2 linked regions of the Homo sapiens genome follow. The protein of the gene in region 1 interacts with the protein of each later gene in a pairwise test. Each region holds a gene or a part of one and is shown on either strand. Other genes may lie near its edges. The genes, in order: TNNT1 and TPM3.

What was found.
Region 2: the proteins of TNNT1 (region 1) and TPM3 interact in binary tests that used the Homo sapiens proteins (3 or more experiments, as listed by UniProt).

The regions. Positions count from the first base shown.
Region 1 is NC_000019.10:55,139,038-55,146,311, reverse strand, and holds part of TNNT1 (troponin T, slow skeletal muscle), read left to right. Parts: intron 1-746; coding exon 747-768; intron 769-4,391; coding exon 4,392-4,455; intron 4,456-5,009; coding exon 5,010-5,126; intron 5,127-5,351; coding exon 5,352-5,429; intron 5,430-7,274. UniProt on the Homo sapiens protein: Troponin T is the tropomyosin-binding subunit of troponin, the thin filament regulatory complex which confers calcium-sensitivity to striated muscle actomyosin ATPase activity.
Region 2 is NC_000001.11:154,161,268-154,168,329, reverse strand, and holds the end of TPM3 (tropomyosin alpha-3 chain), read left to right. Parts: intron 1-389; coding exon 390-393; 3' UTR 394-6,517; downstream 6,518-7,062. UniProt on the Homo sapiens protein: Binds to actin filaments in muscle and non-muscle cells. Plays a central role, in association with the troponin complex, in the calcium dependent regulation of vertebrate striated muscle contraction.

The sequences.
Region 1 (7,274 bases):
GCCCGGTCCTTTAAGCCCCTGAGAGCTCCTGCGCCCTCTCGGGGCCGGGAAGGGAAATGGCCCCGCAGTGGCTTTAACCCTTTCCCTTCCTTCTTAAAGGGACCGACACCCAAGCCTTCTTCCCCAGTCTGGAGGAATCTTTACAGAAGGGTTGGATGTTTGCGGAGAAGCACCACCCCATCCCCCCTTATCTTCGCCTCCAACCTTGTCTGTTATTTTCTCCCCCATATACATTCAAAGGTTGGGGCTTGGAATTTAGGATTGCAGAGGAGGCGAGCGCTGGGAGTCAGGGTCTCCAAGGTCGGGCCGGGGGCGGGGGGGCGGTGGGGCGGTGGGCAGGGGGCGAGCTGGGGAGAGAGCGCTGGGGTCACTGAATGAAGACAGAGGTTGGGACCCCCTGCACTGCTGGGTCCTAATGGAGGAGAGCAGGAGCTCTGGGCATATAAATAGAGAAAGGTCTGGGGGTTTGCACTCCTGGGTGTGCAGACAGTGGGGGTGGGGGGTCCCCACACCAGTTCTGAATGTATATCTGATGCGTGTGACCCTCTTCCTCCTTTACAGCCACCCTGACTTTCCTTCCCTCTTTTCTTCTCCCCATCCCCCCTCCTCCAGAACTGGACTCCAGAGTCCTTCCCTGGGGTCCTGGGGGCCGAGGCTTGGGGGGTCCCTCCCCAGGGTGTGTCAGGCCTAGCCCCTCTCCTCTAAACTCTTGCTAATTATCTCTTTTTATCCCCCACCACCAACAGAAGAGGAACGCCCCAAACCAAGGTGAGATCCTACAGGGTGGGGGGCCCCAGTCATACATCTTCCTAAATATTCCCTCTACCCCCAGAGACAAGGTGTGAGAAAGGCAGAGATGGAGGGAGGAAATTGAAACAGCAGTCGACATTTCTCCTCCTCCTCCTCCTCCCTCCCCCTTTCCCTCCTCCCTCCTCTCCCTCCTCCTCCCTCCTCCTCCTCCACTTCCTCTTCTTCCCCTTCCCCTTCTCCTTCTCCTTCCCCTTCTTCTTCATCGTGGTCATAGTCTCCACCCTGTTACCCAGGCTAGAGTGCAGTGACCCAATCCTGGCCCACTGCCTCAACATCTTGGGCTCAAGCAATCCTCCCATCTCAGCCTCCTGAGTAGCTGGGACCACAGGCATGTGCCACCACACCTGGTTTTTTTTTTTTTTTTTCTTTTTGTAGAGATGAGGTCTTGCTATGTTGCTTAGGCTGGTCTTGAACTCCTATCCTCAAGCAGTTCTCCCACCTTGGCCTCCCAAAGTGCTGGGATTACAGGCGCAAGCCACCATGCCCAGCCAGTCTGTTTCCTTCTTTCCACCCAGTGGTCCCTCTTCCCCTCGCGCCTTTACCATCACCCCAGCCTCCTCTCTGGCCTCCCTGCCTACAACTTGTGGCTCATCCTCCTCCATGACTCGAGAGAGACTTTTCTAACACCAGAGCTAACCCTGCCCCTCCTCTGCTCAGAATCTTTCCTCAACTCCCCACTACTCTTAAGACGCAGTCAAAGCAACTAGCCTGCATTCAAAGCCTTCCCCATCTGGCTCCAGCGGACCTTTCCGGCATCTGCCTTCCCCACTGACAGACACACAGCGTTTCATGGTTCTCTAGCCATGCCTGTGCTTTCATACCCCTGAGCCTTTGCACACACTGTGCCCTCTGCCTGCGCAGCGGCAGGTGGGAGGATCACTTGAGGATAGGAGTTCAAGATCAGCCTAAGTAACAAAATGAGATCCCCCACATCTCTACAAAAAATTTTAAAAAATTAGCCGGGCACAGTGGCACACACCTGTGATTCCAGCTACTCAGGAGGCTGAGGAAGGAGGATTGTTCGAACCCAGGATTTGGAGGCTGCAGTGAGCTATGATTACACCACTGTACTCCAGCCTGGGCAACAGAGCAAGACCCTGTCTCTAAAACATAAATAAAAATAAGGGAATGGGGCCGGGCGCAGTGGTTCATGCCTGTAATTCCAGCACTTTGGGAGGCTGAGGGGGGCGGATTACCTAAGGTCAGGAGTTTGAGACCAGCCCGGTCAACATGGTGAAACTCTGTCTCTACTAAAAATACAAAAGAATTAGCCAGGTATTGTGGTGGGCACCTGTAATCCTAGCTATTTGGGAGGCTGAGGCAGGAGAATCGCTTGAACCGGGAGGCAGAGGTTGCAGTGAGTCAAGATCGTGTCATTGCACGGCAGCCTGGGCAACAAGAGTGAAACTCCATCTCAAAAAAAAAAAAAGGGGGTGGGGTGGGGTGGGGGAATGGACTGAGAGGGATTCCAAGGCAAAGGGACAGGACTTGGGGATTGTTGGGCAAGGGGAGGGAAGCAATGGGGACAACCCCGAAGGGTCTCTGGGCTGGGGAACAAAGTGGACAGTGGGGCTGCCATCTCCTTCTCAGAGAAGTTGGTGAGCTCCATCAGGACGTCATGTGTGGGAAGGTGGGAAAAGTTCAGGAGATACCTGTTAGCTTGAGTCTGGGGCTTAGGAGAGAGTCTGGACCAGAGACAGTTGGCGAGTCCTCAGCAGTTGATGATACCTGAAGTCATTGGAGTGAATGGCATTGATGATGAGAAAAGGGAAAAGGAAAGCTCACTGGCAGCTCACGGGGCTGTCGGGGCAGGAGATAGGGATGGAACAGCCAGAGGGGTGGGAGGCAAGCCGGTATTCATTCCTGTACAATATGGTAAGCCATATTTTATTCCCACACATGACGCCCTGATGGAGCTTATCGACTTTTCCAAGATGGAGATGACGGCCCTGCTGTACACTTGGCCCCCTGGCCCAGAGACCCTTGGGGATTGTCCTCACCTCTTCCCTCCCCTTGCCCAGCATCCCCTAAGTCCTGTCTGCTTCATCTTGGAATCGCTCTTCACTGTCTCAGAAACCCAGAAAAGAGAATTCCAAGGAAGTGGCAGGAAATCAGAGCAGGCTGAGGGCTGAGCCTCAGAGCGGCACCACCCAATAGAAATAGATGGCAAGCCACACACGTCACTTACAATTTCTTACTAAAGGCTGGGCGCAGTGGCTCACGCCTATAGTCCCAGCACTCTGGGAGGCTGAGGCGGGAGGATCACTTGAGCTCAGAAGTTCAAGACCACCCTGGACAACATAGTGAAACGCCATCTCTTTTTTTTTTTTTTTGAGATAGAGTCTCCCTCTGTCACCCAGGCTGGAGTGCGATGGCACGATCTCGGCTCACTGCAATCTCTGCCTCCGGGGTTCAAGCGATTCTCCTGCCTCAGCCTCCTGAGTAGCAGGGATTACAGGCACGTACCACCATGCCCAGCTAATTTTTTTTTTTAATTTCTAGTAGAGATGGGGTTTCACCATGATGCCCAAGCTGGTTTTGAACTCCTGACCTCAAGTGATTCGCCCACCTTGGCCTCCCAAAGTGCTAGGATTACAGGCGTGAGCCACCGCGCCCAGGCTGTGAAACGCCATCTCTACAAAAAATTTAAAAATGGCTGGGCGCAGGGGCTCCTGCCTGTAATCCCAGCACTTTGGGAGGCTGAGGCAGGCAGATCGCCTGAGGTCGGGAGTTCAAGACCAGCTTGGCCGGCATGGTGAAACCCCGTCTCTACTAAAAATACAAAAATTACCCAGGCGTGGTGGCAGGCGCCTGTAATCCCAACTACTCGGGAAGCTGAGGCAGGAGAATCGCTTGAATCTGGGAGGTGGAGGTTGTTGTGGTGAGCAGAGATGGCGCCACTGCATTCCAGCCTGGGTGACAGAGTGAGGCTCTGTCTCAAAAAAAAAAAAAAAATTCTTACTAGGCATATTTTTTAAAGTACAACAATATAGGAAAAATTAATTTTCATAGCACAGTTTTTTTAATCTGTTATATAATGTTTTATCATTTCAACATGTAATCAGTATAAAACATGATTAGTGCCGGGCGCGGTGGCTCACACCTGTGATCCCAGCACTTTGGGAGGCCGAGGCGGGCGGATCACGAGGTCAGGAGATCGAGACCATCCTGGCTAACACAGTGAAGCCCCGTCTCTACTAAAAATACAGAAAAATTAGCCAGGCTTGGTGGTGGGCGCCTGTAGTCCCAGCTACTCGGGAGGCTGAGGCAGGAGAATGGCGTGAACCCAGGAGGCGGAGCTTGCAGTGAGCCGAGGTGGCGCCACCGCACTCCAGCCTGGGTGACAGAGCAAGACTCCGTCAAAAAAACAAAACAAAACCAACAACAACCAAAAAAACATGAGTAGTGAGGTATTTTACCTTCTTTTGTGTGTTTCACTGACAGCCCGCCTCAGCTGGGACCCTCCACGTTCAGGAGCCTCCCGGGGCTGGCGGCTACCTCACTGGACGGCACATCCCGGAGGTGGGAGGTGGCTCAGGGAGGTCGGGCCACTCATGGTCTCTGTGTTTCTGTCCACTCAGCCGCCCCGTGGTGCCTCCTTTGATCCCGCCAAAGATCCCAGAAGGGGAGCGCGTTGACTTCGATGTAAGTGACAAGAGACCCCTCCGCAGGCGCAGTTGCTAGTCTTTAAGGGGCCTTTGTGTCAATCATGAAAAGGCGCCGGCCGGGCGCGGGGCCTCATGCCTGTAATCCCAGCACTTTGGGAGGCTGAGGTGACCCACCTGAGGTCAGGAGTTCGAGACCAGCCTGGTTAATATGGTGAAACCCCGTCTCTACTAAAAATACAAAAATTAGCCGGGCGTGGTGGCAGGTGTCTGTAATCCCAGCTACTCGGGAGGCTGAGGCAGGAAAATCGCTTGAACCTGGGAGGCGGAGGTGGCGGTGAGCCGAGATCGCGCCATTTCACTCCAGCCTGGGAGGAAAAAAAAAAAAAAAGGCGCCGGTCCCCACTCCCCACTCCCGTCTTTGGGAAGCCTGTCCTTGGAAGAGCTGATTAGTGTCAAACACGAGGCATTGCTGCCACCTGCTGGATACCGTCCTGGGAAACGGTTCAGTTCACCATCCTGCATGGGGGAGGTGCTGGGAGGCTGCTGCCCCCTCCAGGGTCTCCTAGGACGGGCTGCCCGTGTGTCCTGCAGGACATCCACCGCAAGCGCATGGAGAAAGACCTGCTGGAGCTGCAGACACTCATCGATGTACATTTCGAGCAGCGGAAGAAGGAGGAAGAGGAGCTGGTTGCCTTGAAGGAGCGCATTGTGAGCCGAGAGTCCGGGTTCCCCCCGGTCTTCCTCCCTCCATGTGGATCCCTTGCATCTTGGGAGATGCAGATAATAGTTTTCCTCCTAGTACAGAGCTGAGCCTTAGGCTTTCGCGAATTCACCCAAGTCGGTGGCCACACTCCAATCTGTTTATTAGCCTACTCTGGGGAAGGAAGACTGGGGGTACGTCCCTGCACCCCCTTATGCTTCTCCGTTTCCCAGGAGCGGCGCCGGTCAGAGAGAGCCGAGCAACAGCGCTTCAGAACTGAGAAGGAACGCGAACGTCAGGCTAAGCTGGCGGTGGGTGCCTCCCCTGCCCTGAGAGCCCAAATGTTACTTCTTCAGCCGGATGCCCATTTTGTTATTATTATTATTATTATTATTATTACTATTATTATTATTCTTTGAAACGGAGTCTAGCTCTGTCGCCCAGGCTGGAGTGCAGTGGCACGATCTCAGCTCACTGTAACCTCTGCCTTCCAGGTTCAAGCGAATCTTCTGCCTCAGCCTCCCCAGTAGCTGGGACTACAGGTGCGCACCACCACGCCCGGCTAAATTTTGTATTTTTAGTAGAGATGGGGTGTCACCATGTTGGCCAGGATGGTCTTGATCTTCTGACCACATGATCCGCCCACCTCAGCCTTCCAAAGTGCTGGGATTACAGGTGTGAGCCACCGCATCCGGCCTATTATTATTTTTTATTCGTTTATTTGGAAATAGGGTCTTGCTCTGTCACCCAGGCTGAAGTGCAGTGGTGTGATCCTAGCTCACTATAACTAGGACCTCCTGGGCTCAAATGATTTTCCCACCTCAGCCTCCAGAGTCGCTGGAACTATATAGGCTGCGCCACTCTGCCCCACTAGTTTTTTTTATTTTTTTATTTTTTGTAGAGACAGCATTTTGCCATGTTGTCCAGGCTGGTCTTCAACTCCTAAGCTCAAGCAATCCACCTGCTTTCACCTCCCAAAGTGCTGGGATGACAGGCATGAGCCATCGTGCCCGGCCTGGATTCTCCATTTTCTTCTTTTCCCTTTTTTTTTAATTTTAATTTTTTTTTTTTCTGAGACAGTCTCGCTCTGTCACCCAGGCTGGAGTGCAGTGACGCGATCTCAGCTCACTGCAACCTCCGCCTCCTGGTTCAAGCAATTCCCCTGCCTCAGCCTCCTGAGTAGCTGGGATTACAGGCACCTGCCACCAGGCTCGGCTAATTTTTGTATTTTTAGTAGAAATGGGGTTTCTCCATGTTGGTTCAGGCTGGTCTTGAACTCCTGACCTCAGGTGATTCACCCCCTTGGCCTCCCAAAGTGCTAGGATTACAGGCATGAGCCACCATGCCTGGCCATTGTCATCATTATTACTATTATTATTATTTTTTTTTATTTGAGATAGGGTCTTTCTATGTTGCCCACGTTGTTCCCAAACTCCTGGGCTCAAGTGATCCTCCTGCCTCAGCCTCCCGAGTAGCTGGGATTACAGCCACCTGCCCGTCACCCAGCTGTGAAGGGGATTTTGCAGATGTGATTAAATTAAAGATCTTGAGATGGGAAGGTTGTCCTGGATTACCTGTGGGGAAGGGCAAGATCATCACAAGGGTCCTTATAAGAGGAAGGCCAGAGGGTCAGACTGAGAGATTTGAAGATGCTGCATGGCTGCCTCTGAAGATGAAAGAAGGTCCATGGGCCCAGACATGCAGGCAGCAGCTGGAAAAGGGAAGGGAATGAATTCTCCCCTAGAACCTCCAGAATAAATTGGTTCTGTTCACAACTTGATTCCAGCCCAGGGGGACCAATTTCAGATGTCTGATCTGCAGAGCTGTAAGATAACAAATCTGCATTGTTTTTCTGCCACTAAATTTGCAAATTACAGCAGTGATAGGAAACTAAGTTTAGGCGCGATGGCTGACGCCTGTAATCCCAGCACTTTGGGAGACCGAGACAAGTGGATCACCTGAGGCCAGGAGTTTGAGACCAGCCTGGCCAACATGGTGAAACCCTGTTTGTACTAAAAATACAAAAATTAGCTGGTAATGGTGGCACATGTCTGTAATCCCAGTTACTTGGGAGGCCGAGGCAGGAGAATCACTTGAACCCAGGAGGTGGGGGTTGCAGTGAACAGAGCAGAGATTGCACCACTGCACTCCAGCCT
Region 2 (7,062 bases), on another chromosome or scaffold:
ACACATTAAGACAAAATTCAGGCCTCCTGGGTGTGTTTAATTGGTTCCCTGATATTAAAGTTCAGGGAACTACCCAAGATGGGAAATACCAAATTCACCTAAGAATTGAGCTGAGTCCCAGAAGCAAGCCAAGTGATAAACAGCACCAAAAAGAGTTGTTGGGGCTTCATCTGTTTGCTGTGGATCCCTGATCCTTGATGCTAATCTGCCTCTTTGTATCTTTCCCACTAACCCTGAAAAGAAGCCACATTTCTCAGGCTGAAGTGTCTGGCTCTCTTTTATTATTCCTGCTGCCACCTCTTCCTTTTTTTCCTCTTCCTTTTTCCCAGTTTGCTATCTAGATTGATGCTAGTCCTTCTCACCTAGAGTATCCTTACTTTTTCATACAGATAATTATCACCGTTTCTGCTCTGTTCTGGATCTGCCCCCTTTACTCCTCGGGGAACCCAAGGCCCCACTCTCGCTCTGGATTCCATTTGGGTCAGCCTGGCTGGTCCCCAAGGCATTAGGATGGGGGAGCAAAAAGCAACTTATGTATTTTCTTCCACCCCCACCCCAAATTAAAATGTTAAGCTGCTGGAAACCTCATGCCACCCTGCATTTGTGTCATTGACAAAGCTGTTGCTGTCCCTAAGAAGGAGCCTTGGGGGTGTGATGTGGGGAAGAGCTATTGTAGGCTCCCCCTCCTCTGACTTATGTAATCAAAGCCACTTTTGTGTGTGTCTATTTTTTCTTGACATTTAAACTCAGCTGATCTGATTCTACCAGAGTGATGGATTTAGTACAGGTTACTCAGGATAGTAATTTTAGTTATACTCCTCAAGCTGAACAAGATTAAATTCCTTATTTCCAGGTTCTTAAATCATCCTGCCTGCAGTGTTTCCATTCTCTCTTCAGGTATTCCTCCTTTGGTGTGGTGTCATTGAGAAGCCATTGAAGTGACTCTCAATACACATTCTGTACCCTTTTACCGGTGGTTCAAATGGTGCATCCTCAGAACACCCAGTGAACCCAATACATTATTGCTAAGATTGACTAATTATGTCAACTCCAGTCACAGAAAAATACACAATGGATAGAATTCTGGACGGTTTTTTTACTTTTTCTTCTTTAAACCTTTCTTACATATTTGAGACTTGCTACCATTTGCCTGCTAGTGTGTGACTAGTGGGATATAAGATAAGTGATAAATTATTATTGGGAAAACTAAAATGACCAATCATGCATATTTCAAATAATGTGCATATGAGGCTAATGATTTATTACATACATAAATTTCTGCTAGTAAAATTTTCCTTGGTTCATATTGTGGAATTAAATATCAACATTTTAGAAATTCCCATTATAGGCCGGGCGTGGTAGCTCACGCCTATAATCCCAGCACTTTGGGAGGCTGGGGCAGGTGGATCACCTGAGGTCATGAGTTCGAGACCAGCTCGGCCAACATGGTGAAACCCCGTCTCTACTAAAAATACAAAAATTAGCTGGGCATGGTGGGTGGGTGCCTGTAATCCCAGCTACTCGGGAGGCTGAGGCAGGAGAATCGCTTGCACCTGGGAGGCGGAGGTTGCAGTGAGCGGAGATCGCGCCACTGCATTCCAGCCTGGGCAACAGAGAGACTCCATCTCAAAAAAAAAAAAGGAATTCGCATTCCAATTTACACAGCAGAGATTTCTTAATAGTATAGCTGTGAATTATACTAATCCAAGCACGTAAGTGTTGTTCACTTAGTACTTTAGTTTCCCAGCAGGGTATGTATTTAAAATTTGCTTTTCTTTTAGCTGGGTGCAATGGCACTTGCCTGTACTGCCTGTAGCTTCTTGGGAGGCTGAGGCAGGAGGATTGCTTGAGCCCAGGAGTTCTGCACTGTAGTGTGCTATGCAGGTCAGATGTCCTCACTAAATTTGGCATCAGTATGGTGACCTCCTGGGAGTGGAGAACAACAAGGTTGCCTAAGAAGGGGTGAACTGGCCCAGGTCGGAAATGGAGCAGGTCAAAATTCCTGTGCTGATCAGTAGTGGGATTGCACCTATAAATAGCCACTGTAGTACTCCAGCCTGGGCAACACAGCAAGATTCCATCTGTTAAAAACACTTTTGCTCTTCTTTTAAACAGATATAATCAGGTAGGGAAGTTTTCCTTAATCTAAAACTTTAAGTCATATCAAATTCACGTTTCCTTTTGTCCATTCCATTTCTTACTGCCGCATAGCCTTTGAGATTAAGGTTCAGATTCATTTATTCAGCTGACACTTCCTGGTATCTTCTAGGTATAGGATATTAAGATGGAGACAGAAATAAAGATGGAGGCACCATTCCTACTCTCAAGTTGCTTAGAATCTACTAGGAGAGAAAACATACATAAAGCTACAGATACTGTGTGATGAATGCCACAAATAATAGTGTTATGGGAATTGAGTAGAGGGGACGAGATTGATCCTAGTGGGAATGAATTGGAAAAACTCATGGAAGAAGGCATGTAATGGGTACTTCATAAACATGTTAAAACTTTTTTCTTTTTTTCTTTTTTTTTTTTTTTTTGAGACGGAGTTTGACTCTTGTCACCTAGGCTGGAGTTCAGTGGCCTGATCTCAGCTCACTGCAACCTCTGCCTCCTGGGTTCAAGCAGTTCTCCCACCTCAGCCTCCCGAGTAGCTGAGATCACAGGCGCCTGCCACCACACCCAGCTAATTTTTGTATTATTAGTAGAGGTGAGGTTTCACCATGTTGGCCAGGCTGGTCTGGAACTCCTGACCTCAAGTGATCCACCCACCTCAGCCTCCCAAAGTGATGGGATTACAGGCTTGAGCCACTGCGCCCAGCCAACATGTTAAACTTGCATATTCATTTTTATTGGGTTCCAAAAGTGGATTTTTGACAAGCAGAGTTGGGTTGTGGGATAGTGAATATTGAGCATTCCATTATTTATTTATTTTTCTCTTTTTGAGATGGAGTCTCGCTCTGTCACCCAGGCTGGATGGAGTGCAGTGGTGAGATCATGGCTCACTGCAACCTCTGCTTCTTGAGTTCAAGCGATTCTCCTGTCTCAGCTTCCCGAGGAGCTGTGATTACAGATACCCACCACCATGCCCAGCTGATTTTTGTATTTTTAGTACGGACGGGGTTTCAGCATGTTGGCCAGGCTGGTCGCGAACTCCTGACCTCAAGTGATCCACCCGCCTCTGCCTCCCAAAGTGTTGGGATTACAGGCGTGAGCCACTGCACCTGGCCTGAGCATTCCATTTAAAGAGAAACAAAATAATAAAGGCATTGATAGAGATGAGAAGGCCACAATAGCTCTAAAGGTAGATTTAGACAGAGTAGGGAACAGGTTGTGTCTTAAAATGAGGCTGAGGAGTTATAATTTTACTTGGAGTTAATGGGGATGCCACTGGAGATTTTGAATAGGATATGTTGTGATCTGAATAACATATAAGAAGAATTAATTTGGTAACTAATTTGCAGATTAGCAAAGTGATTCACTAACATGGTGTTTCTCACATTTCAGCCATTTATGTTACCATTTTTGATGGCTTTTTCCATATTCATTGCTGCCTACATTGTTTTCTTCAGATCTACTCATTTCCAGATTTATTTTGTTCTTACTTGACACAATTCTATTTTGAAATCAAAGTTTTGATGTGTTAGTGTTTTTTCCTAATCACATTAAAGTAACTATAGCAGTGAATACACCACACTTTGGAAAAAATTGGGTTAGGTTAATTTAGTTTTCTAGGAGAGAATAATCAGGGTCTGAGCTAGAGTAGTGGCAGGAGAGATAGCACTAAATAAAGACAGGCATTGTGAAAGGCCTGGCCACTTGATGTGAGGAGGAAAGACAAGGATGACTGGTTTTTAGAGTAGGAGAATTAGCCGGGTGCAGTGGCTCATGCCTGTAATCCCTGCACTTTAGGAGGCTGAGGTGAGAGGATTTCTTGAATCCAGGAGTTCGAGACCAGCCTGGCAATAAAGTGAGAACCTGTCTCTACAAAATATAAAAACTTAGCCAAACATGGTGGTGCGTGCCTGCAGTCCTATCTACTTGGAGGGCCGAAGCCAGAGGATCCTTTGAGCCCAGGAGTCTGAGGCTGCAGCAAGCTGTGATCACACTGCTGCACTCCATCCTGGGTGGCAGAATGAGACCCCCCCCAAAAAAAGAGTAGGAAAGTGGTGGGGTTAAAGATGTAGGGAGATCATGTTGTCCTGGTTTGGGGAGCTGGGGGAAGGGAAAGAAGATACGGCTGACAATCTGGCAGGTATCTGGGTGAAAACAAAATTCTAGGGCGTGAGGCAGAGAGGTTGACATAAGAGAGTTGGGAATCCATATGGGGTACAGGTAGTTTATGCCATGGAGGTAAATTAGAACCATGAAGGACAATTGCAAATACAAAAAAAAGAGGCCAGGCACGGTGGCTCACGCCTGTAATCCCAGCACTTTGGGAGGCCGAGGTGGGCGGATCACGAGGTCAGGAGATCAAGACCATCCTGGCTGACACGTTGAAACCCCGTCTCTACTAAAAATACAAAAAATTAGCTGGGCGTGGTTGCGGGCACCTGTAGTCCCAACTACTTGGGAGGCTGAGGCAGGAGAATGGCGTGAACCCGGGAGGCGGAGCTTGTAGTGAGCTGAGATTGTGCCACGGCATTCCAGCCTGGGTGACAGAGCAAGACTCTGTCTCAAAAAAAAATTAAACAATGAGGAAAACGTTATGTAAGAGGAGGAACCAAATGGAACTGATTGGAGGGAAAGAAGACGGTTGAGTAGTTCTTTAAAAAGTTCCGGGTTGGATGCTTTCTAGTGGTTTTTCAACAGAGAGGCTAAGAAGGAAGATAACTGAAAATGGGACATGCATTGATACTTTAGTAATTTGAGGGTACATTTTGAGTGTTAAGAAGTGAAGAGGAGGAGTCATTTTCAGGGGCAAAAGAGTGTATTGGTAGGAAGATTATATAGGCAATATAATTTACTTTAGAGCAGGGCTTTCCAACAGAACTTTTGGTAATGATGTCTAGTACATTAGCCACATGTGGCAGTCAAGCACTCAAAACATGGCTAGTGTGGCTGAGGGGCTAAAATTTAATTGTATTTCATTGTAGTTCATTTAAATTTGGCTACCTGTGGCTAGTGGCTATTATATTGGACAATGCATTTCTAAATATTCAGATCCTGGGCAGAAGTTGGCTTTGACATGAAGAAAGACTTCTTAGAAAGGAAGGAAGTAGACCGGGCATGGTGGCTCATGCCTGTAATCCCAACACTTTGGGAAGCCGAGGCAGGTGGATCACAAGGTCAAGAGATCAAGACCATCCTGGCCAACGTGGTGAAAACCTGTCTCTACTAAAAATACAAAAATTAGCTGGACATGGTGGCACATGCCTGTAGTCCCAACTACTCGAGAGGCTGAGGCAGGAGAGAAAAAAAAGAAGGAAATAAGAGGGAGATTGGGAGAAAAGTAAGGTGTTATAGCTCTGATCTGTGGTATCTCCTGTTTTCCTTGCGGTATGACTAGTGTGAGCCAAGGATAGAGACCAACAAACTGGGGTACCAAAGTGGACAATGAAGTACTATGTAATTAGTGCTAATGCTAAATTCATTCCTTTGTTTAAGGCTTAATATCCTTGCAGAAGCCATCCTGTGTTACTTGAGCCTGGACTAGTATTGGGGTGAAGTCAAGCATCAGAGTAAAACATTTGTCCCCTTAATGTTACCCCCTCTTAATTTCTAAGAACCACAGGCCCATTTTGCCCTTCCTTGTTACCATCATTGAGATAAGGAATAAGATGTAGTAACCCCAAGTTATCTGATAGGTACAACTGACCTATTCTGTTTGGCAGCTTTATCTTAGACCTATTCTGTTTGGCAGCTTTATCTTAGCCCCAACCAAATCTCTTCCTTTCACATGGTGTTGGTTGAATACTATCCAACTCCATGGGGTTGGTTTGTGTTTTTTTTTTTTTTTTTTTTTGAGACGGAGTCTTGCTCTGTTGCCCAGGCTGGAGTGCGGTGGTGTGATCTTGGCTCACTGCAAGCTCCGCCTCCTGGGTTTAAGTGATCCTCCTGCCTCAGCCTCCTGAATAGCTGGGATTACAGGCACGTGCAACCAAGCCCGGCTAATTTTTGTGTTTTTAGTAGAGACTAGGTTTCAACATGTTAGGCTGATCTCAAACTCCTGACCTCGTGATCTGCCCGCCTCGGCCTTCCAAAGTGCTGGGGTTACAGACTTGAGCCACTGCACCTGGCCATGGGGTTGTTTCTTAATTAGATATAGCTGAAAAGAACGCTAGACCAAATAGGTTCTCTGCCTTGCCTTTTCGTTTGTTTTGTTTTAGCTATTATCAGGGAACCAAAAACTTTAAGGAGCTAGTACTGGTCTTAATTTTTAATAACTAGAGATAGCAGAGTTAGAAACTAAGTTCAAAGTGAGAGAACAGCTGCATTTGTCTTTCTGACCTCATGCAATTCCTAGGAAACTCTGTGTTCTGTGATTTAGTCAGGCAATAAAATGCTCTCACTCCTTCTCTGTCTCTTTATTTCTTCCCTAAATGGAAAAGAATTGACCAGGCTGCTTTGAGGGATAAAGATCCTGATAACGCGGCTGGGTGCGGTGGCTCATGCCTGTAATCCCAGCACTTTGGGAGGCGGGCAGATCACCTGAGGTCAGGAGTTCAAGACCAGCCTGGCCAATATGGTGAAACCCCATCTCTACTAAAAAAAAAAAATGCAAAAATTACCTGGGCGTGGTGGTGGGTGCCTGTAATCCCAGCTACTCAGGAGGCTGAGGCGAGAGAATCGCTTGAACCTGGGAGGTGGAGGTTGCAGTGAACCAAAATCGTACCATTGCACTCCAACCTGGGCAACAAGAGTGAAACTCAAAAAAAAAAAAAAAAAAAAAGGATCCTGATAACATCCTTCTTTCCCAAGTGAGAATCACACAAACTAACTTGGTTATAGGTATTATCTAAATTCAGGCTGTTCACGAGATCTATATGTAATGTAACATCACAGGAAATTTGAGAGATTAGTTCACAAATTTCAACACCTGTTATTTTGACAAGGACGCCC